Linked DNA regions of Homo sapiens: regions 1, 2 and 3 are each linked to region 4. The links come from fine-mapping of genetic effects on gene expression. A gene starts in region 4. Each other region holds a variant in brackets. All regions are shown on one strand. Distances are from middle to middle.

Region 1 (5,151 bases), 130 kb before region 4:
GCCCTGGTCTTTGCTCACCCTGACAACCAGACACCTCACTGTGTCCTGAGCAGCATAGATGCCACACGCACAGTGCCACATAGAGAAGGGTGATGTAAATGAAAATTAAAACACTGTGACAAAGTCAAGCAGGGCATTTGTTTTTGTTGTTGTTAAGTTATTTTTGGTAGATACAGGGTCTCACTATGTTGACCAGGCTGGTCTTGAACTCCTGGGCTCAAGCAATCTGCCTGCCTCAGCCTCTCAGAATGTTGGGATTATAGACATGAACCACTGCACCCGGCCAGTGTCAGTCTTTGTTCCCTACAAGTGAAATCAAAACAGCCTCACGCCTGTAAACCCAGCAGTTTAGGAGCCCAAGGTGGAAGGATCGCTTGAGCCCAGGAGTTTGAAACCAGTCTAGGCAACATAGTGAGACCCTATCTATACAAAAATAAAAATAGCCTGGGCAGGGTGACTCATGCCTATAATCCCAGTACTTTGGGAGGCCAAGGTGGGTGCATCACTTGAGGTCAGGAGTTCGAGACCAGCCTGGCTAACATGGAGAAACCCTGTCTCTATTAAAAATACGCCTGTAGTCCCAGTTACTCGGGACGCTGAGGCAGGACTGCTTGAACCTGGGAGGTAGAGGTTGCAGTGAGCCGAGATCGCGATACTGCACTCTAGAGCCTGAGTGACAGAGTGAGACTCCGTCTCAAAAAAATAAAAATAAAAAATTAGCTGAGGGTGGTGGTGCGTGCTATACTCAGCTACTCAGGAGGCTGAGGTGGGAGGATCACCTGAGCCCAGAAAGTCAAGTCTGCAGTGAGCTATGATCGTGCCACTGCACTCCAGCCTGGGAGATGAGACCCTGTCTGAAAACAAACAAACAAACAAAAACCAAAATGGCTAAGTTTACAGCACCAAGTCTATCCCTTAACAGTATGACTGCTTTGAGTTCAGGCACGTGTCTAAGGGCAGCCGGTTCAGAGACCTTGACACCTGGTGGAGTCACAGAATCAAGACCCTGGGAAAACTTCTTATAGCTTATTTATTTAAAGCTTTACAATTGTTTACACTGCTCAGGAAAAAAAGAAAAAAAAAACCCAACAAATTATGGGTGTTCAGAGAGCTGTGTTAGCCCACAAAGTTCGAGGGAGAAACTGTCATTCACAGAGCTTGATTAACCACAGACTTAAATTTCAGGAGGAAGTAAGCTATGAAAAATCTGTAACCTCTGCCTGTCATATGCTTAGTTTGTTAAAGAAAACTAGAGAAGGAGCTTGTTATTCTTTAAATAGAAAAGCTCCAAAAAGCCCTAAAATGTTTTATCTGAATAAGTTCTCTCAGTAGGTATCTTAAGAATAATAGATTATAGTCAGGGGTTAGGGGCCAGCTCACAAGACTGATGCAAGTTCTTTAAGTTGTGATTGTGTCTGATGAAGAGGAATGCATACTTACATATTTGTGTAAGGAAGATTTCCTTATTGTCATTTCCTTCCATCGCTTGGTCCATAAAAGCAAAGAGGAAGGAAGGGAGGTCTGTGGTCATACACACTGTCACCCATGCTAAGAGAAAAGGTAGTTGAGAGCTCTGCCTGCCCACGTGCCCATCTGCTGGGTCATCCTTGTCCTATCAGGAGAGAAAGAGCACTTCCTTTCCTCAGTGGGACTGGGAGGAGGCAGCAGCCTCAGGCAGCTGGAAGGTGTGCCCCTGGGCCTCACACAGCTCTGGGGAGGTGGCACAGGGCTTCCTCTTTCATAGAGCTAATTAGGTTCTTATCTGTGCTACCAGATGAGCCCAGCTGCCAGCTCCTTACTTCATCTCAACCAATCCAACAGGCTATTCAAACCAACACTGATATTATTCTAGCAATATGTTTATGTATTTTGGACAAAAGTTTAAAGTAATTTAGTCCTCCATCTGTCACCTTCAGGCTAAAGTCCTTTATTTTCTTGGTGCATTGACCATGGGGCTCCATCTAGGCTCTGAAAGGATATTCCCTCAAGGCCCTGAGCTAGAGACCACAGGGTAACTCTACATGCTGTTCTCCTAATAAGATTTTGGTAACATCTGATTGTTTGCTAAAATCCCATTCAAAGCTCCTTCTACCTGGGCAGAGCCTGCCAAGTTGAGTTCAGCTTCAGTTGGATGAGTATGTCAAAGTCCCTGGCCATTCGAATAGCCATTTACCTAAGGCAAGAGCAAATGCTGGCTAAAGCATCTAATCACCATTTATTTATGTTGGTGATGTTGGGATTTGAGAGCACAGAGTGGAAGGTAGAAACAGGGTAGTGTCTGTAACTACCGTCAGATCTACTTCTTCACTTTCATTTTTAACATACAAGGTCCTTAAAAAAACCTTGGATTTTTTTTTTGTTGCGGGGGCGGGGTAGAGATGAGGTTTCGCTATATTGACCAGGCTGGTCTTGAACTCCTGGCCTCAAGTGATCCTTCTGCCTCAGTCCCCCAAAGAAAACCTAGCAGTTGAAAAATGATCAATTCATATAAAGAGAAACTGAAAAAAGACTTTTGCCTTGTCCCCAGCAGGCTGAGGAATTACCAAGGAGGCAGGAGGTGGAGCAAAACACACCAAGCCTGGTGCCAATCATTGACAATATTATGGTTAGTACTTACTGAGGGCTGACTATGGTTGAAACTGCCTTTGCAAAATTATGACTGAGACGGTGAAAGAGATCTAACTTAACCAACGCTAGCTATCTTGCCTCTAACCTCCAAGCTGTCCTTGTTCATTCC[T/C]GGGCATAGGCTGAACTAACTTTGGGAGAAATTTAGTTTATAGTTTGAAACAAAGATGATAACAGCCCTTTGCCAAAGCAGACCTCCTTCTTGTCTGGGGACTAGATGGCCTTTGTAGGACTAACATGAGCCACAAGATTAGAAATTATGGATAGGAGTCATGCAGCTGGAGTCTCCAAGATTCTGACCCTCCCTAAACTGCTCCCAAGATCAATGCTTGAGATATTTTGCAGACCCTGCATGTGATGGATCAGCTGACACCATCCAGATCGGTAAACTGGTTCATCTGATCTTGTGCCCTCCACCCAGGAACTGACTCAGCGCAAGAAGACAGCTTCGACTCCTTGTGATTTCATCCCTAACCAATCAGCACTCCTGGCTCACTGGCTTCCCCCAACCCACCAAATTGTCCTTAAAAACTCTGCTCTCCAAACGCTGGGGGAGACTGATTTGAGTAATAATAAAACCCTGGTCTCCTGCACAGTTGGCTCTGCGTGAATTACTCTTTCTCTATTCCAATTCCCTTATTTTGGTGAATTGGCTCTGTCTACGCAGTGGGCAAGGTGAACCCCTTAGGCGGTTACATGGTTATTGCCCCTTTTTTTTCCTTCCTTCCTTCCTTCCTCTCTCTCTCCCTCTTTTCCTCCCTCCTCTTCTCCCTCTTTCCCTCTCTTTCTTTCCTCCTATTCATAAAAACCTATTGAAACTGACTTTGCAAAAATTACAACTAAGAAAATTATGTCAGTGAAAGAAATCTGACCTAACTGACTCCACCTTGCTTCTAATTTCCAAGCTGTTACACCATTCCTGGGTATAGGCTGAACTAACTTTGGCAGGAACTTAGTTTATAGTATAACTTTGAAACAAAGACGGTAACAGCCCTTTGCCAAAACAAACCACCTTCCTACCTGAAGACTACACTGTCTTTGCAAGACTACCACCTTAGGTACCAGATTATAAATTATGGTTTAGGAGTCATGCAGCTGGAGGCTGCAGGATTCTGAACCTTTCCAAATTGCTCCTGGGGATAACGTCACTATAATAAAACCTAAGATCAGTGCTTGAGGTATTTTGTAGACCCTGTACTCCATGGATCAGCTGGTACCACCCAGATCGATAAACTGGCTCATCTGATCTTGTAGCCTCCATCCAGGAATTGATTCAGTGCAAGAGGACAACTTAGACTTTTTATGATTTCATCTCTGACCTGATCTATCAGCACGCCCCACTTTCCAACCCCCTACCCATCAAATTATCCTTAAAAACTCTGATCCCTGAACTCTGGAGAGGCTGATTTGAGTAATAATAAAACTCCAGTCTCCCATACTGTGGCTCTGCACGAGTTACACTTTCTCTGTTGCAATTCCCCTGTCTTAATAAACTGGCTCTCTCTAGGCAGTGGGCAAGGAGAACCTGTTAGGTGGTTACACTATTGGCTACATTAGTTTATGGTTACAGTATTTACATATAACCTCAATTACAAGGAAAATTAAATGATTACGGAGGCAACTGAACTAGAGTATCCAGATTCTTTTATACTAGGAGTCACTAAGTATATAGTATTTATTGCTAAATTAGAAATAAATGTTATGGCCCATCTGTAGACAATAAGGCAAATTCAGAGGAGCAATTAAGAGCCACCCAGAACCTTGACTTTTAGATGCATGACCTGCCTCCCCTGGTCTGTAGGCAGTGGAGGATTAAGGAAACAAAGTGCAAGGTAGCCCTGGGAGTAAATTAACAGCATAATACACACTTCAAGAACACCCAGAGATCTGTGAGTGAGACCAGGAGTTGCAAAGTTAAATGGCTGTAGGGACCAGACATGAGATACAAATGAATAAATGAGCAGGGTTTGTTCTTTGTATATAGATTCACTTTGCATATTAAACATGGAAGAGTATCAGGAAGTGAAGGACCTCTTCAAGGAGAACTACAAACCACTGCTCAAAGAAATCAGAGAGGACATAAACAAATGGAAAAGCATTCCATGCTCATGGATAGGAAGAATCAATATCATGAAAATGACCATACTGCCCAAAGCAATTTATAGATTCAATGCTATTCCCATTAAACTACCATTGACATTCTTCACATAATTAGAAAAAAAAAATTTTAAATTCATATGGGGGTTGGGCGTGGTGGCTCACACTTGTAATCCCAGCACTTTGGGATGCCGAAGCGGGCAGATCATTTAAGATCAGGAGTTCGAGACCAGCTTGACCAACATAGCGAATGAAACCCTGTCTCTACTAAAAATACAAAAATTAGCCAGGCATGATGGCACATGCCTGTAGTCCCAGCTACTTGGGAGGCTGAGGTAGAGGATCGTTTGAGCCTGGGAGGCGGAGGCTACTTTTAAAAAGTCAAAAAACAACAGATGCTGGCGAGGTTGTGGGGAAAAAGAATGCTTT
Region 2 (5,151 bases), 260 kb before region 4:
TTAATGGTGACCAAAGAAACTTAACAAGTTTTAAAATTATAAAATAGGCCTCTCAGTGCCGCTTAATCACACAGGTCCAGTGTGTGCTTGGTGTCTTTTCTGGGAGGCAGAGGAAGGCTCTCCTAATCACAACAGACCTGCCCAGAAGGGCCTCTCTATTTCTAGGAGTATGATAGCTTTTGGGGGGAAAAAAAAGAAAATAATGGATGCTGCCGGGTGCGGTGGCTAATGCCTGTAATCCCAGCACTTTGGGAGGCTGAGGTGGGCAGATCACGAGGTCAGGAGTTCAAGATCACCATGGCCAACATGGTGAAACCCCGTCTCTACTAAAAATACAAAAATGATTTAGGTGTGGTGGTGGGCGCCTGTAATCCCAGCTACTCAGGAGGCTGAGGCAGGAGAATCGCAATTATCATGTATCAATAAAAATTTTATTAAACTATCATTCATAGCATCCATTCTTTTCTTTCTTTTTTTTTTTTTGAGACAGAGTCTTGCTCTTGTTGCCCAAGCTAGAGTGCAATGGCACAATCTGGGCTCACTGCAACCTCCGCCTCCTGGGTTCAAGTGATTGATAAATGATAATTGTACATATGTATGGGATACGTGTGATATGTATTAAACATGCATACAATGTGTAATGATCAAATCAGGGTAATTGGGAGATTTGTCACTTCAAACATTTTTTTATTTTTTATGTTGGGAACATTCCAAATATTCTCTTTTAGCTATTTTGAAATATACAACAAATTATTGTTAATTATAGTCACCCTACTATGCTATGGAACACTAGAACTTATTCCTTCTAATTGTATTTTTGCACCTTTAACCAGCCTCTCTTTATTTCCCATCCCCAACCTTTCCCAGCCTCTAGTAATTATTATTCTACTCTCTACATCCATGAGCTCAATATTTTTAGCTACCACATATGAGTGAGAACATGCAATATTTCCACTTCTTCTACCCATTATTCTGGGCCTGGTTTATTTCACTTAACATAATATCTTCCAGTTCCATCTATGTTAATGCAAATGACAGAACTTCATTCTTTTGTGGCTGAATAGTATTCCATTGTGTATATGTATACAATTTTTTTTAATCCATTCATTGAGGGACACTTAGGCTGATTCGATATTGTGACTTTTGGGATTGCTGAATTGTATGGCACATCTATCTTTAGTTTTTAGAGGAAGGTCGATACTGTTTTCCACAGTGGCTGTACCAGTTTCCACTCCCCCCGGTAGTGGACTAGTGTTCTCCTTTCTCTGCATCCTAACCAGCATTTGTTGTTGTTTTTTTTGATAATAGCCTATTTTAATGGATGCTATCAATAATATAATTTAGTAGGATAGTTTTAGTGATACCTTTTTGAATTTATATTTTCATAACTTGTGAAATGTCCCTCACACCTCATCTTTTGGCCTCTTCTCTATCTCTAAGATTTTGCAAAACCTTGCACACATGCATGACTCGGAATGCCAGGCATAATGGAAAGTTGCCACACAAGAAAAGAAAGAAAAACTCGGCTAGGCGTGGTGACTCAGGCCTGTAAATCCCAGCACTTTGGGAGGCTGAGGTGGGCAGATCACGAGGTCAGGATATCGAGACCATCCTGGCTAACATGGTGAAACCCCGTCTCTACTAAAAATACAAAAAACTAGCTGGGTGTGGTGGCACGTGCCTGTAGTCCCAGCTACTCGGGAGGCTGAGGCAGGAGAATCGCTTGAACTTGGGAGGCGGAGGTTGCAGTGAGCCAAGATTGCACCACTGCACTCCAGCCTGGGCAACAGAGTGAAACTCCATCTCAAAAAAAAAGAAAAAAAGAAAAACTCATTTCTGTTGAACACTTTTTAACATGAAAAAAAGGTAACTTTTTTTGGTAAGTGATTCTAGTGGTGGTGTATGGAAGACAGGAGGGTGGTCAGTATCAGAAGAGATCACATTCAGCTCAAAGAGTTCAAGAGAAGATAGAGTTGGAAAACATGCTGTTCTACCTTTATGCTACACAATTTTAAACTAAAGGACCTCAAAATGGGTTATTGTTCACATTTTCCATAATTCTCTTAGTGAGACTTGCATTTGTGGTCATCAACAGTGAATCGCAGTAATTACCTTGGAGAGAGTTATTGGAAACAGGCCACACAGTAGAAGATCCAGTGACATGTGTAATGATGTAACCAGCATTAAATAAATGGACCTAGGGAACTGAAGAGACAAGCAGGTCTGTATGGTTCCAATATAAACAGGTTCCCAAGAGTCATGACATTGTGAGTCATGATGGTACCGCTAACTTTTTTTTTGCAGGGAGGCAGTATAATATATAATTGGTAAGATTAAATCTTTTAAGTGTACAACTTTATGAATTTGGACAAATGCATACAGTCATATAACTGCCACCACAATTAAGATTTTCAATGTACATCTTAAACTAATCACAGTCTAGATTCAAGGAGTATTCTACCTCTTCACTGTGTGGTGCCCCAACTGGTGTACTAGGGTTATGGCTGTCATACATTTTGCTTTTACATATGCTACACACCCACAAAACTACTGTACTTTCCCTGTACTCACTCTTTTCCCTGTTTTCACTACTACTATTTTTAAAATTTAGCTAATCAATTATCTTTTACAGCTATTAAAAGTCAGAAAAAGTCTTTTACGTTTATCTTCATTTTAACC[A/T]TTTCTGGAATCTTCATTTCTTTGTGTAGATCCAACTTTCTCTCTGGTATGTAGAACTTAAGCCTGAAAAACTTCCTCTAATATTTCTTATAGTCCGCTTCTGGGTAATGAATTCTCTGCTTTTGTGTGAAAAGTCTTAATTTCTCCTTCATTTTTGAAAGATATTCACACTGCGTATAGAATTGTGGAGAGTTATTATTTTTCCCTTCTCTCAGCAGTTTAAACATGCCAATTTGTCTCCAGACTTGCATGGTTTCTGAAGCCTGCCATAATTCATTTTTTTCATTTTTTTATTATTATACTTTAAGTTCTAGGGTACACGTGCACAATATGCAGGTTTGTTACATATGTATACATCTGCCATGTTGGTGTGCTGCACCCATTAACTTGTCATTTACATTAGGTATATCTCCTAATGCTATCCCTCCCCCAACCCCCCACCCCATGGCAGGCACCGGTGTGTGATGTTCCCCATCCTGTGTCCAACTGTTCTCATTGTTCAATTCCCACCTATGAGTGAGAACATGTAGTGTTTGGTTTTCTGTCCTTGTGACAGTTTGCTCAGAATGATGGTTTCCAGCTTCATCCATGTCCCTATAAAGGACATGAACTCATCCTTTTTTATGGCTGCATAGTATTCCATGGTGTATATGTGCCACATTTTCTTAATCCAGTCTATCATTGATGGACATTTGGGTTGGTTCCAAGTCTTTGCTATTGTGAATAGTGCCACAATAAACATACGTGTGCATGTGTCTTTATAGCAGCATGATTTATAATCCTTTGGGTATATACCCAGTAATGAGATGGCTGGGTCAAATGGTATTTCTAGTTCTAGATCCTTGAGGAATCACCACACTGTCTTCCACAATGGTTGAACTAGTTTACAGTCCCACCAACAGTATAAAAGGGTTCCTATTTCTCCACATCCTCTCCAGCACCTGTTGTTTCCTGACCTTTTAATGATTGCCATTCTAACTGGTGTGAGATGGTATCTCATTGTGGTTTTGATTTGCATTTCTCTGATGGCCAGAGTGAACGGGCAACCTACAGAATGGGAGAAAGTTTTTGCAATCTACCCATCTGACAAAGTGCTAATATCCAGGATCTACAAAGAACTTAAACAAATTAACAAGAAAAAATCAAACAACCCCATCAAAAAGTGGGCGAAGGATATGAACAGACACTTCTCAAAAGAAAACATTTATGCAGCCAACAGACACATGAAAAAAGGTACCGCTATCTTTTTGTCATGGTGGGAAATGTGAAATTATCCAGGAATGGCATCTGTGACAATAAAGAAGATGAAAAGATGATTCCTAGACCAAAATAGGAAGAGATGATGTCTGGATATTTGCCCTGATTTGACAATAAATAAATATGTAAGCATCTCTTCTACTCCTTTCTACCCATTATTCTGAATTTTTATTGATAAATCACTATACTTTCCAGAGCCCACACAATTTGTAAAGCATTTTCAATAAAACTGTTTAGTTAGGCAAGGCTTCTTAAAATGTATACATATATTTTCCTTGCTTTGCAGATGGATGCCTCCCAGAGCCACCTGCACCCGTCATGGTCAATCCCACTGTGTTCTTTGATGCCATCATCAACTTGGGCTGTGTCTTCTTTGAGCTGTTTGCAGACAAAGTTCCACAGACAGCAGAAAATTTTGTACTTGAGAGCTGGCGAGAGAGGATTTTGTTATATGGGTTCTTACTTTTACAGAATTATTCCAGGCCTTACGTGCTAGGGTGGTGACTTCATGCCATTATGGCGTTGGTGACAAGCTTATCTACAGAGAGAAATTTGATGATGAGAATCTCATCCTGAAGCATACAGGTCCTGGCGTGATGTTCATGGTAAATGCAGGACTCAGCACAAACAATTCCCAGTTTTTCATCTGCACGGCCAAGACTGAGTGGTTACATAGCAAGCCTGTTGTCTTTGGGAAGATAAAAGAGGGCATGAATATTGTGGAAACCATGGAGCACTTTGGATCCAGGAATGGCAAGACCAGCAAGAATATCACCATTGCCAATTGTGGGAAATGCTAGTAAATTTGACTTGTTTTATCTTAACCACCAGACCATTTTTTCTGTAGCTCAGGAAAGCACCCTTCCACCCCATTTACTTGCAATATCCTATAATCTTTGTGCTCTCACTGCAGTTCTTTGGGTTCTATATTTTTCCTATCCCCTTCACATCTAGCTGGATTGCACAGTTAAGTTTATTAATTATGAAATAAAAATTAAATAACAATAAACAATTTTCCAGGGGCCCTATATATCCCACATAGTAGCAGCTCTGCTTGGCTGTGACCCTATGTTTGAGAGTTAACAAGTATTAATTGATGCACTACATACGGTAGTATCATGTTCTGTCAAATGCTGTTATTCCAGCCCCAAAAAACTGTATAAGGCAAACCTTGCCTTAAGAGCCATGGTCTTGCTGGTAATACAGAACTTACCC
Region 3 (5,151 bases), 110 kb before region 4:
TACTTTGAGTAAACATGGAGAGAAAGTTCACAGTGACCTAATCAGAAGCAGAAATGAAAATGGGGCAAAATGCCATGTGGGGGCATTTTGCAATAAGAAGCAACAGGAGTCTGGCACCTAAATCCAGCAACTGTGTAGCCAGGGTTGGAAAAAGTCCAGGTTACCAGCAACATGCCTGTTTTTTACGGAGAATGAGTGAAATGAATATGCTCCCAATGGTCCTCTGAGTTCTTCACATTCATCCCAACTCCCTTGCTCCTCTGCTCCAGCACTGCAGTGGAACTGGATGGCTACAGCTTACATTGCACGTTTCAATTTGGGCGATGGATGAGAACTTCTGTACTATGTTTGCATCTGCAAGACTCTGCTACTCTTGTTTTTAACTTCTGGATGTTCAGGTACACATTGAAAAAAGGAAGTCCTTAACTCTGAGAAGCAGTATCGTCCTGAAACTACCTAAGAAATGGCTCAAATCCTTTCAATTTCCAAGGAAAGCAAAAGTTACACATTAGAAACTGAGATGACAATACCTAAGCATATAATTTCATTGAGATAGATTAGATTAGCTTCAGGGACATATATGGCTCACAGTATATTCCATGCTTCTCCATAGGCCAGGAAGATTTGCAGCTAACACCCTTCCTGAATTCTTGTCCCTATAGGGCTTTTGTGTGGGACATCATTGATCCCTATGAGTTCCAGCTGAGGAATTTATGACATATTCTATTCCCCCCTGAGATTAGCCTTTAATAATTTATTTATTCATCCAACATTTAAGAGACCCCAATGGTGTTAGATGCTGGGAACCCAAAGACAACTAAGGCAAGATCACTGTCCCCAAAGTCCTTAGTAAGGGGAGATAAGACATGTAATTTTTAAAAGCCACAAAATGCTATGGTGCCATGACAGAGGTATGTCTGGGGAACAGAAGGGACTCCAAGAAGGAAGAGGTGCTTCCAGGTAAGACAAACTGTGGAAATAAAGCAGCTATAGGGCAAAGAACTTGTTGCAGTCAGGAAGATGCAGGTAGATCAGGTGACCAATTACAATCCTGTTCTTGGAGCTGGTAGGATAAAGGACAGACCCAGGTGGAAGAGGCGCAGGTGAAAGTTTTGCTCCTTCTGGGGTCTTCCTCTACATTTTGACCCAGGCCCGTCTAGGTGGAAATGTAGAGGAAGACCCCAGGAGAAGCATAACTTTCCTTTAACCCATATATCACAAGACTTGGCTGCCTTATGATGAAGCTATAGTTCCCAAATATGTCTTCAATGAAGAAAATTTAATGTTTAGGAATTCTAGAACTTGCAGAGTTGGGAGTTGCCTGGGAGATGAAATGTTCTCTCCATCACCTCCAGCCCTTGGTGCTGAGTTCATTAGCATGTTTAGTTCTAATTTTAGCTATGAAAAAATATATTTTAAAATATTGACACATTTATTATTTAGTGCTGGATTTAACTGTTTACACTTTCACTGATAAAAGATTAAAAATATGTCTTACTATATACTGCTGCCTATAGTTAAAACAGCATCCCTGTTTCTCTTTTTCTCTCTTGTTCTCTATTTTTGAAACTGAGTTAATAATCCCCTTGATGTAGAGATGGGGGATTTTCATCAGTACCAGATCATTTCACCTGCCTTTTCTCCTCCCTGAGATTTCCAATTTCCTGGTGCTTCCTTTTCACTACATTTACCACCCATTTCTTGGTTTTAGGTAAGATCCCATGGTCTCTCCCTATGAACACTATCTCTCACATAGTGTCAGCATTTCTAACTTCTTACCCTGGAGCTATCCACCTGGATCTTTCACCTAAACTCCTGAGTGCTTCTGGAGAAGGTAAAGATCTGTTTTGAGATGAATCTCAAACACTGTTAAGTAGGGCAGCATTTCTAAAGTCCACAGAGCAGCACAGTGGTCCACCTTCAAGTGTGATAGGCACTACCCACTACCTCCCCAAGAGCCATTTTCCCTTCTTTCAGTGTGTTCAGGTGGTAAGGAGAGATCTTTGCTTCCAAGGAGAGTGGTCCCCGACTCCAGGATAGGCCTAACCAGTCATGGAAATCTCCTTCCCTTTATCAATTGGTTGTTCTTGGTTTGGGCATTTGACCTTGTTCTGGCCAATAGGATATAAAAAGAAATCAGCTGGAGATATCCTAAGTAAAGACAAGATTTTGTGCTGTGTTAATTTCCTTGGGCTGCCATCACGAAGTATCACAAACTGGGTAGATTACAACAGAAATGTAGTATCTCACAATTCTGAAGGCCCTCAGACTGAAATAAGGTGTCAGCAGGGCCATGCTCCTTCTGAAAGCTGTAGGGGAAAAAACCTTTTCTTGTCTCTTCCTGGCTTCTGATGCTTGCCAATGAAGGGGT[T/A]TGGATTATGCCACCCCACAATATGCCACTCTGGCATATGGATTATTTTGACTTGAAGGCAACTGAGAAAAAGCAGACCCAGGATGAGATCTCTGTCCGCCTCCTATCTGCCTGAAAACAGAACATAAGCTCCCCTTGTGAAAGTGCCCCCCTCTACCCCCCTACCAGTAAAGGGATAACATAAAGGGACAACACCTTATCACTGGAGACAAGATGTCATCCAGAGGAATCTACAAAAACAAAACGTATTAACTAGCCCTCATCTACCATAAGTTTCCCCATATATTTGCCTTCCCACAATTTGCTGCCCCTAGAAGCTCAAAGTCATTTTCCTTTGTCTTGCCACTTCTCTACAAAATTATTGTTCTTTGCTCAATTCTATGTAAGTTCAAGTTCTTTTTTTTTTTCTTTTTTTTTAGACGGAGTCTCACTCTGTCACCCAGGCTGGAGTGCAGGGGCGCGATCTTGGCTCACTGCAACCCCTGCCCCCTGGGTTCAAGCAGTTCTCCTGCCTCAGTCTCCTGAGTAGCTGGGATTACAGGGGCGTGCCACCACATCTGGCTAATTTTGTTATTTTTAGTAGAGATGGGGTTTCACCATGTTGGTCAGGCTGGTCTCAAACTCTTGACCTCGTGATCCGCCCACCTTGGCCTCCCAAAGTGCTGGGATTACAGGTGTGAGCCACTGCACCAGACTAAGTTCAAGTTCTAACCACTCCTTTGAATTACTTATTACTGAATACTCCTATGTGTATGTGCAATGCATATTTCAATAAACTTGTTTGTTTTTCTCTTGTTAATCTGTCTTTTGTCAGTCTAATATACAGTCTTTTTTTTTTTTTGAGACTGAGTCTAGCTCTGCTGTTGCCCAAGCTGGAGTAGTAGTACCACGATTTCAGCTCACTGCAACCTCCACCTCCCAGGTTCAAGCAGTTCTGCTGCCTCAGCCTCCTGCATAGTTGGGATTACAGGTGCCTGCCACCAAGCCCAGCTAATCTTTGTATTTTCAGTAGAGATGGGGTTTCAACATGTTGGCCAGGCTGGTCTCGAACTGCTGGCCTTAAGTGATCCACCCCCGTCAGCCTTCCAAAGTGCTGGGATTACAGGTGTGAGCCACCGTGCCGGGCCACTCTAATATGCAGTCTAATTTTCCCTAGCTGGAGAACCTAGGATGGGTACAGAAAAGGTAATTATTTTCCTCTCCTACACCAGCAATACTTGGCATTCCTCGGCTTGCAGCTTCAATACTTCAACTTCTGCCTCCTTCTTCACAGGGCTGTCTTCCCTCTGTGTGTGTCTCTGCCTTCACATAGCGTTCTCTTCTTGTGTCTGTCTCTGTTTTTTCTTTTTGTAAGGACATCAGTTATTGGATTAGGGCCCACCCTGGTTCAATATGACCTCATCTTAACTAATTACATTTGCATTCCAAATAAGGCCACATTTGCAGGTATCTGGGTTAGGATATCAACATATCTTTTTTGGGGACACAGTTCAATCCATATAAAGGCCTTTTGCTCCTGCCTTTCATCTACCTGGAGATGCAGCAACATCTTGTGACTATGAGGCTACAAACATGAGGAAACAAGTTTACAAGCTAAAGCTGGTGGAAAGGAAAGCTAGGGAAAAAGAAGGAGTCTGACAGCATTACTACACAGTTGAACTACTGCCAGCAACCACTCACCTCTAGACCTCTTGCTAGGTAAGAAAAATAACTCCAGGTTACTTAACCTCTGCCAGGTTTCTTTCACCTGTAGCCAAAAACATTCCAATGCATACACAAAACTTTCCCTAGTTCATAATAAAATTAGAAAAATAAGTAAGGTAATAAAATTTTCATAGATCTGGATTCATTAAATTTAAAGGACTAATCTTTGTTCTGAAATTATGTTATTCCCACTTTTAAAAAATTAAAATATCCTTTCTTTTATGAAATGACGGTATTTGTAGATTGTAATTTTTTTTTTTTTTTAGTGTCTTTGGTAAAAGAAGGAAGGAAAAAGGGAAGGGAAAAAGGAAGGAAGGAAGGGAAGAAAAAAGATTTCAGAAAGTCTTTCTCTAATTTTTAAAAATTCTTTTACTTAGCTTGTGAAACTCAAAAGTCTGTGATGAGAAGAATGCTAGCTAAACTTGCTTTGAAGGGCTAGAACCAGTGGTGTGTGCTGGAGCTGCTGGCAGCAGTTACCGAGAGCAGATGGTTAAATTTCCAGGAAGCTACTTGGCATCACCTGGATGGTTTGAAATCCAATGTGGCGGGAGTATTTGCATCATGGAAATCTGCAAATGCTATAAATCAAACCACCTCCCCTTCCCCAGCTGGTCGTTTACCAGCACACCACTGTCTCCAGCCTGCCTCTTGCAAGTAGCCAGAGGGTAAGCATGCAAGGTACAGCTCACACCAACTAAAACACACATGGGATTGAGGTAAACTTCATTTACTAATTTATACATTTACAATGGAAAATATTCTTGGCCTGGTGCGGTGCAATCCCAGCACTTTGGGAGGGCCAAGGTGGGAGAATCGCTTTAGCCCAGGAGTTCAAGACCAGCCTAGGCAACATAGGGAGACCCTTTCTCTACAAAAAAGAAAAAGAAAAGAAGAAAAAGAAAAATATTCTCTCTATTGCTGGTTTAAGTACCTAATGGTCTATTTTCCTCAATAAAATGTCAGCTCTGCCTCAGCAGGAACCATATCTGTTCTGTTCATGCAGTATCCCCACTGCCTAGCATAGCACCAACTGGTGCGGGGGCCCTTGTCTTCCTTGGAGTCATGATCAGAGATTC
Region 4 (5,151 bases):
AAAAGGGGGTGGGGTGGAAAATATAATTAAAAAGGAAGTAAAAGTATGCAGTGGCCTTCAGGTACTACCAGATCCAGGACTCAAATAACATTTACAGGACTCCTCTTTCTCTTTCTTCTCCTTTTTTTTAAGACAAGCTTTCAAAGCATAAAAGGCAGGACAGCAACCAGCAGATTCAGTTGGGGTAAACCGTTATCTTAACCACTTTGAATAGGTTCCCTGTTCATCAGTTCATTTATCAAAAATTTATTGAATGTGTTAAGCAGGGTTCTGAGAGCTGAGAATACAGCAATACACAAAACAGATAAAACTGCTATCCTCTTGGAATTTACCTTCTAGTGGAAAGAGGGAATCTGTTAGAAGGAGAAGGGATGCTAGAAAGATAAAAATGTTATCCTCCACAAAATAAGGTCACGTCTTATACCTTAAGATCAACTCTTATCTTTCTTTCCTCCCAGCTAGTAAACTCAATCCTTTTACAACGTTCTTCCCTTTCACAAACATGTGAAATCCCCCAAATCAGGTCTTCAAATGGATAAATAGCCTTGTCTATGGATTTTGAGTGCATTTAGTTTACTTTTGCTGTGTAATCTCTGCATAATGTTTCTACAATATGCCTGTAGTTATAATAATATAACCTTCCTGTTTCCATTTTTTTGAATCACTTATTCTTTTTAGACTATTTTTGCATTAAATACAGGTCTTTCTTCTGCCTTCATGGTTTCCTTAAAATACGATGTTAATTAGTAAAATCCTGCAAAAACCTGGTCATTTATTAGTCATTTAAAAAATATTCCTCTGAGCGATTTTAATTCTATTCCTCTGTATTAACTATTCTAACTCTATAAAATTGAAGTCCTGGAGACCAAGCTTTTGAGAATCCCAGGAAGTGTGGCCTAATACTAGAAAATCTCAACTTCTGCCTCTCCCCTTTAAGTACACAGTAAGAAATGCTTGCATGAAGCATTTTAGGCTGTGTTCTTATGATAAAATTCAACTTTCATGAAATAAATTAATCTGAATCAAGTTGTCCTCATCTGAAAATGCCTAGATTTATTAGTGCTAGCCCGGCTTTATTCCACAAACAATTCTATTTAAATTAGGTGTTGGTCTAACAAATCTGCCTGACCACAGCAATGACTCACGGACCATGTAGGAAACAACTTTCACTAAATTCAAGATTGCTCAAGTGAAAAGGTGCGCGGGGGAGGGGAGGAAGAGTTGGTTGTCCTCATCATTTTTATTTTTAAGTAATATTACAAGTTATCTATCCTGCCCCAACTGTTTCCTCAATTTGGTTGCTTTTCATTCCACTGTGGTTGGCATCTTTTGTCAAGGCAGTAATTTATTTCTTTTAATCCGGATATAATGGCCAAATGGGCGATCTGACTCACTCAAATCCCATCGTTAAAACTTATCTTGGAATTAAACAAAAATGGATTTTTAATCGTAGAGCTCATCAGCCTCATAGTCTCCACCTCATTTCTGAATGGCCTTGTTCGGCTTGCACCTTCTGTGCTTGCTGAACCAAAGCGCGCTGGTCGGCCGCGGCATCTCCGGAAGGGATGAAGAGCCTCCGCGCACACGCCCCTTACTTCCCTGTCCCGCACGCGCCACGAGCACGCTTGCAAAAGACGGGGAGGTGGCGGGGACAGAGACAGAGGAAATGAGAGAGAGAGAACGAAAGAGAAAGGAGAGAGAGGGAGAGAGAGAGGGAGAGAGAAGAGGGGAAGGAGAAGAGAGAAAAAAGAAAAAAAGGTCTGCTCTGGGATTATTATTATTATTTGGGTTAATACTCTTATCTTTGCATTCCAGCCGGAAGGTCGGCTCCAAGCCTTCTTTCCTGCCCTCCTCCTTCTTGAATTGGACACCATCCCTGTTGCCGCCTCCTGAGTCAGGAAAGGGATAGAACTTTCCCAGGGAGGTGAGGGGTGTCCCCGTGGCGATTTCCCGGTTACTTCCTCCCAGCAGATATCCCTGTGGAGAGGAAACGTTCCCGACTTCCCTCCCCGCGACCTCCTCCCTAGAAACGAGCGGAGACGTCAGGCTGCTTCTGGGTTTATTTTGTAAACCCAGACAGTCAACTGCACTTGGCGCAGGCAAAGCCTCCTTGGCCCTTGCCCCAAAGCAAAGCTCTAAGAGGTCCGGGGATTCCTTGGCCTGGGTGGGGAGAGAGACGTGACCTGTGCGGCCGCCGCGAAGTGGGTCTCCAAGGGTGAGACCCCTCCCTCGGTGGCTGGGCGTGTCCCCTTTAGCCTTCCTGGACCCCATTACCGCCCGGCTTGGAGCTGGACGAAGGGACGTAATTGGTAGGCGAGTGGGTTGGGCATCTTGACTCAAGGACCAGAGTCTGGGCCTCTGGTGTGGACCCCTGCCCCCTCCCCGCTCTGCGCGGCCGTTCTAGAGGTCCGGGTGGGAGCTGGAGGAGGAAAGCGGGAGGAGGCGGCGAGGCCGCGGGGCGGTATGAGGGGGCGCCGGCCGCCTCTCGGATTGGCTGCGCCGCCGCCCCCTCCGCATCGCGCGCCCCCCACCACGCGCCCAGCCTGCTCCCTCCCGCAGGCTCCGAGCTGCTGCCCGCAGGAGGCAGGACGCGCAGGGGTGGGACCGGCGCCCCAGCCCGTCTCCCGGCCCCGGGCGCGCGGGAACCCCGGGTCCTGCAGCCTCCCGAGTGCGGAGAGGCGGGGCCGCCCGCTGCCGCCCGGCTGCCTGCGCCCCCTCCCGCGGCCCCGGCTCTGGGAGCGGGGCGCCCCGCGCGCGGGCACACGGCGGCCAGAGCGCCGAGGCGGTACCTTCAGCCTGCAATGAGAGGAACCCGGGAGAGCCCCCGGGAGCCAGCGAAGAGCTTGGCTGCTGCGTCCAGGGCTGCTGCTGCCGCCGCGGCTGCTTGAAACTCCTCAAAGTTGAGAGCCGGCTAGAGGGTGCCGCCCGCCGGGAGCCGGAGGGAAAGGAAGTCGGAAGGTGCAAGAGTGACAGACACGGACAGACGGACGCGCAGACCTTCGGAAGGCACTGCGTAGGCAGCCTCCCCGGAGCCCACGAGGCTCCCCAGCACCGTGAGTTTTTTCCTGGATGGGTGGTTGCTAAGTATTTCCGTTTAATTGTTTGTAGCGTACGTTTGCGTATAGTTGTGTCTGTTGGAGGGAGTTTAAAACAACAACAACAACAACAACAACGCAGGATGCACCTTAGGAAAAAATTGAGTTTCTGATGGTGGGTGAGACGGTGGGTTGTATGGAGAGAATGTGACTGTACATTTTTATAAGCAGGACTAACCCAGGAAAGAGGAAAAAATACATTTAACAGTGAAGAGGCAACACAGAGCTCCCTATTGTGAAATAAAACCCATTTCAAAAGTTATTGGAAAGAAAGTAAGGTATGGCTCTTATGGGTTAACTAGTGGTAGTCAGTTTCTGCTTTTTACTCCCTCTGAATTATTAATTGTTTGCCAGGTTCACTGGTGGGAGGCTGAGCCGGTGGAAAAGACACCGGGAAGAGACTCAGAGGCGACCATAATGTCGTTACGTGTACACACTCTGCCCACCCTGCTTGGAGCCGTCGTCAGACCGGGCTGCAGGGAGCTGCTGTGTTTGCTGATGATCACAGTGACTGTGGGCCCTGGTGCCTCTGGGGTGTGCCCCACCGCTTGCATCTGTGCCACTGACATCGTCAGCTGCACCAACAAAAACCTGTCCAAGGTGCCTGGGAACCTTTTCAGACTGATTAAGAGACTGGACCTGAGTTATAACAGAATTGGGCTTCTGGATTCTGAGTGGATTCCAGTATCGTTTGCAAAGCTGAACACCCTAATTCTTCGTCATAACAACATCACCAGCATTTCCACGGGCAGTTTTTCCACAACTCCAAATTTGAAGTGTCTTGACTTATCGTCCAATAAGCTGAAGACGGTGAAAAATGCTGTATTCCAAGAGTTGAAGGTTCTGGAAGTGCTTCTGCTTTACAACAATCACATATCCTATCTCGATCCTTCAGCGTTTGGAGGGCTCTCCCAGTTGCAGAAACTCTACTTAAGTGGAAATTTTCTCACACAGTTTCCGATGGATTTGTATGTTGGAAGGTTCAAGCTGGCAGAACTGATGTTTTTAGATGTTTCTTATAACCGAATTCCTTCCATGCCAATGCACCACATAAATTTAGTGCCAGGAAAACAGCTGAGAGGCATCTACCTTCATGGAAACCCATTTGTCTGTGACTGTTCCCTGTACTCCTTGCTGGTCTTTTGGTATCGTAGGCACTTTAGCTCAGTGATGGATTTTAAGAACGATTACACCTGTCGCCTGTGGTCTGACTCCAGGCACTCGCGTCAGGTACTTCTGCTCCAGGATAGCTTTATGAATTGCTCTGACAGCATCATCAATGGTTCCTTTCGTGCGCTTGGCTTTATTCATGAGGCTCAGGTCGGGGAAAGACTGATGGTCCACTGTGACAGCAAGACAGGTAATGCAAATACGGATTTCATCTGGGTGGGTCCAGATAACAGACTGCTAGAGCCGGATAAAGAGATGGAAAACTTTTACGTGTTTCACAATGGAAGTCTGGTTATAGAAAGCCCTCGTTTTGAGGATGCTGGAGTGTATTCTTGTATCGCAATGAATAAGCAACGCCTGTTAAATGAAACTGTGGACGTCACAATAAATGTGAGCAATTTCACTGTAAGCAGATCCCATGCTCATGAGGCATTTAACACAGCTTTTACCACTCTTGCTGCTTGCGTGGCCAGTATCGTTTTGGTACTTTTGTACCTCTATCTGACTCCATGCCCCTGCAAGTGTAAAACCAAGAGACAGAAAAATATGCTACACCAAAGCAATGCCCATTCATCGATTCTCAGTCCTGGCCCCGCTAGTGATGCCTCCGCTGATGAACGGAAGGCAGGTGCAGGTAAAAGAGTGGTGTTTTTGGAACCCCTGAAGGATACTGCAGCAGGGCAGAACGGGAAAGTCAGGCTCTTTCCCAGCGAGGCAGTGATAGCTGAGGGCATCCTAAAGTCCACGAGGGGGAAATCTGACTCAGATTCAGTCAATTCAGTGTTTTCTGACACACCTTTTGTGGCGTCCACTTAATTTGTGCCTATATTTGTATGATGTCATAATTTAATCTGTTCATATTTAACTTTGTGTGTGGTCTGCAAAA

Direction of the effects. Alleles are on the strand shown, and positions count from the first base shown. SD is a standard deviation of normalised expression in the study named. Not every link is listed here.
With allele A in place of T in region 2, the expression in monocytes after LPS of the gene that starts at base 2,556 in region 4 is higher (moderate effect, 0.53 SD a copy in Quach 2016).

What was found. PIP is the estimated chance that this variant, and not a neighbour inherited with it, causes the effect. A credible set is the group of variants that fine-mapping cannot tell apart.
Region 1: its variant is the best candidate, but not a certain one, in a credible set for the expression of AMIGO2 in whole blood (INTERVAL, PIP 0.88).
Region 2: its variant is the best candidate, but not a certain one, in a credible set for the expression of AMIGO2 in monocytes after LPS (Quach 2016, PIP 0.58).
Region 3: its variant is the best candidate, but not a certain one, in a credible set for the expression of AMIGO2 in lung (TOPMed, PIP 0.54).

What each region holds. Positions count from the first base shown.
Region 1 is chr12:47,203,965-47,209,115 of GRCh38, reverse strand. The region is part of intron 2 of PCED1B (PC-esterase domain containing 1B); the gene reads right to left. PCED1B-AS1 (PCED1B antisense RNA 1) reads left to right here. Exons shown (of 3, transcript NR_026544.1): 3 at 1-696. Among named protein-coding and RNA genes, the nearest start is that of PCED1B-AS1, 9.9 kb to the left of the region's middle. The variant T/C (reference allele first, on the strand shown) is at 2,738.
Region 2 is chr12:47,341,193-47,346,343 of GRCh38, reverse strand. It overlaps LOC124900322 (small nucleolar RNA SNORA64/SNORA10 family), which reads left to right and starts at 47; the gene lies at 47-178. It also overlaps the pseudogene PPIAP45. The variant A/T (reference allele first, on the strand shown) is at 2,680.
Region 3 is chr12:47,183,854-47,189,004 of GRCh38, reverse strand. The region is part of intron 2 of PCED1B (PC-esterase domain containing 1B); the gene reads right to left. It overlaps MIR4698 (microRNA 4698), which reads right to left and starts at 1,193; the gene lies at 1,114-1,193. The variant T/A (reference allele first, on the strand shown) is at 2,372.
Region 4 is chr12:47,077,364-47,082,514 of GRCh38, reverse strand. AMIGO2 (adhesion molecule with Ig like domain 2) reads left to right here and starts at 2,556. Exons shown (of 3, transcript NM_001370299.1): 1 at 2,556-3,053; 2 at 3,267-3,373; 3 at 3,450-5,151. The coding sequence starts at 3,513. The coding sequence ends at 5,081. It overlaps PCED1B (PC-esterase domain containing 1B), which reads right to left and starts at 2,894. Exons shown (of 4, transcript NM_138371.3): 1 at 2,790-2,894.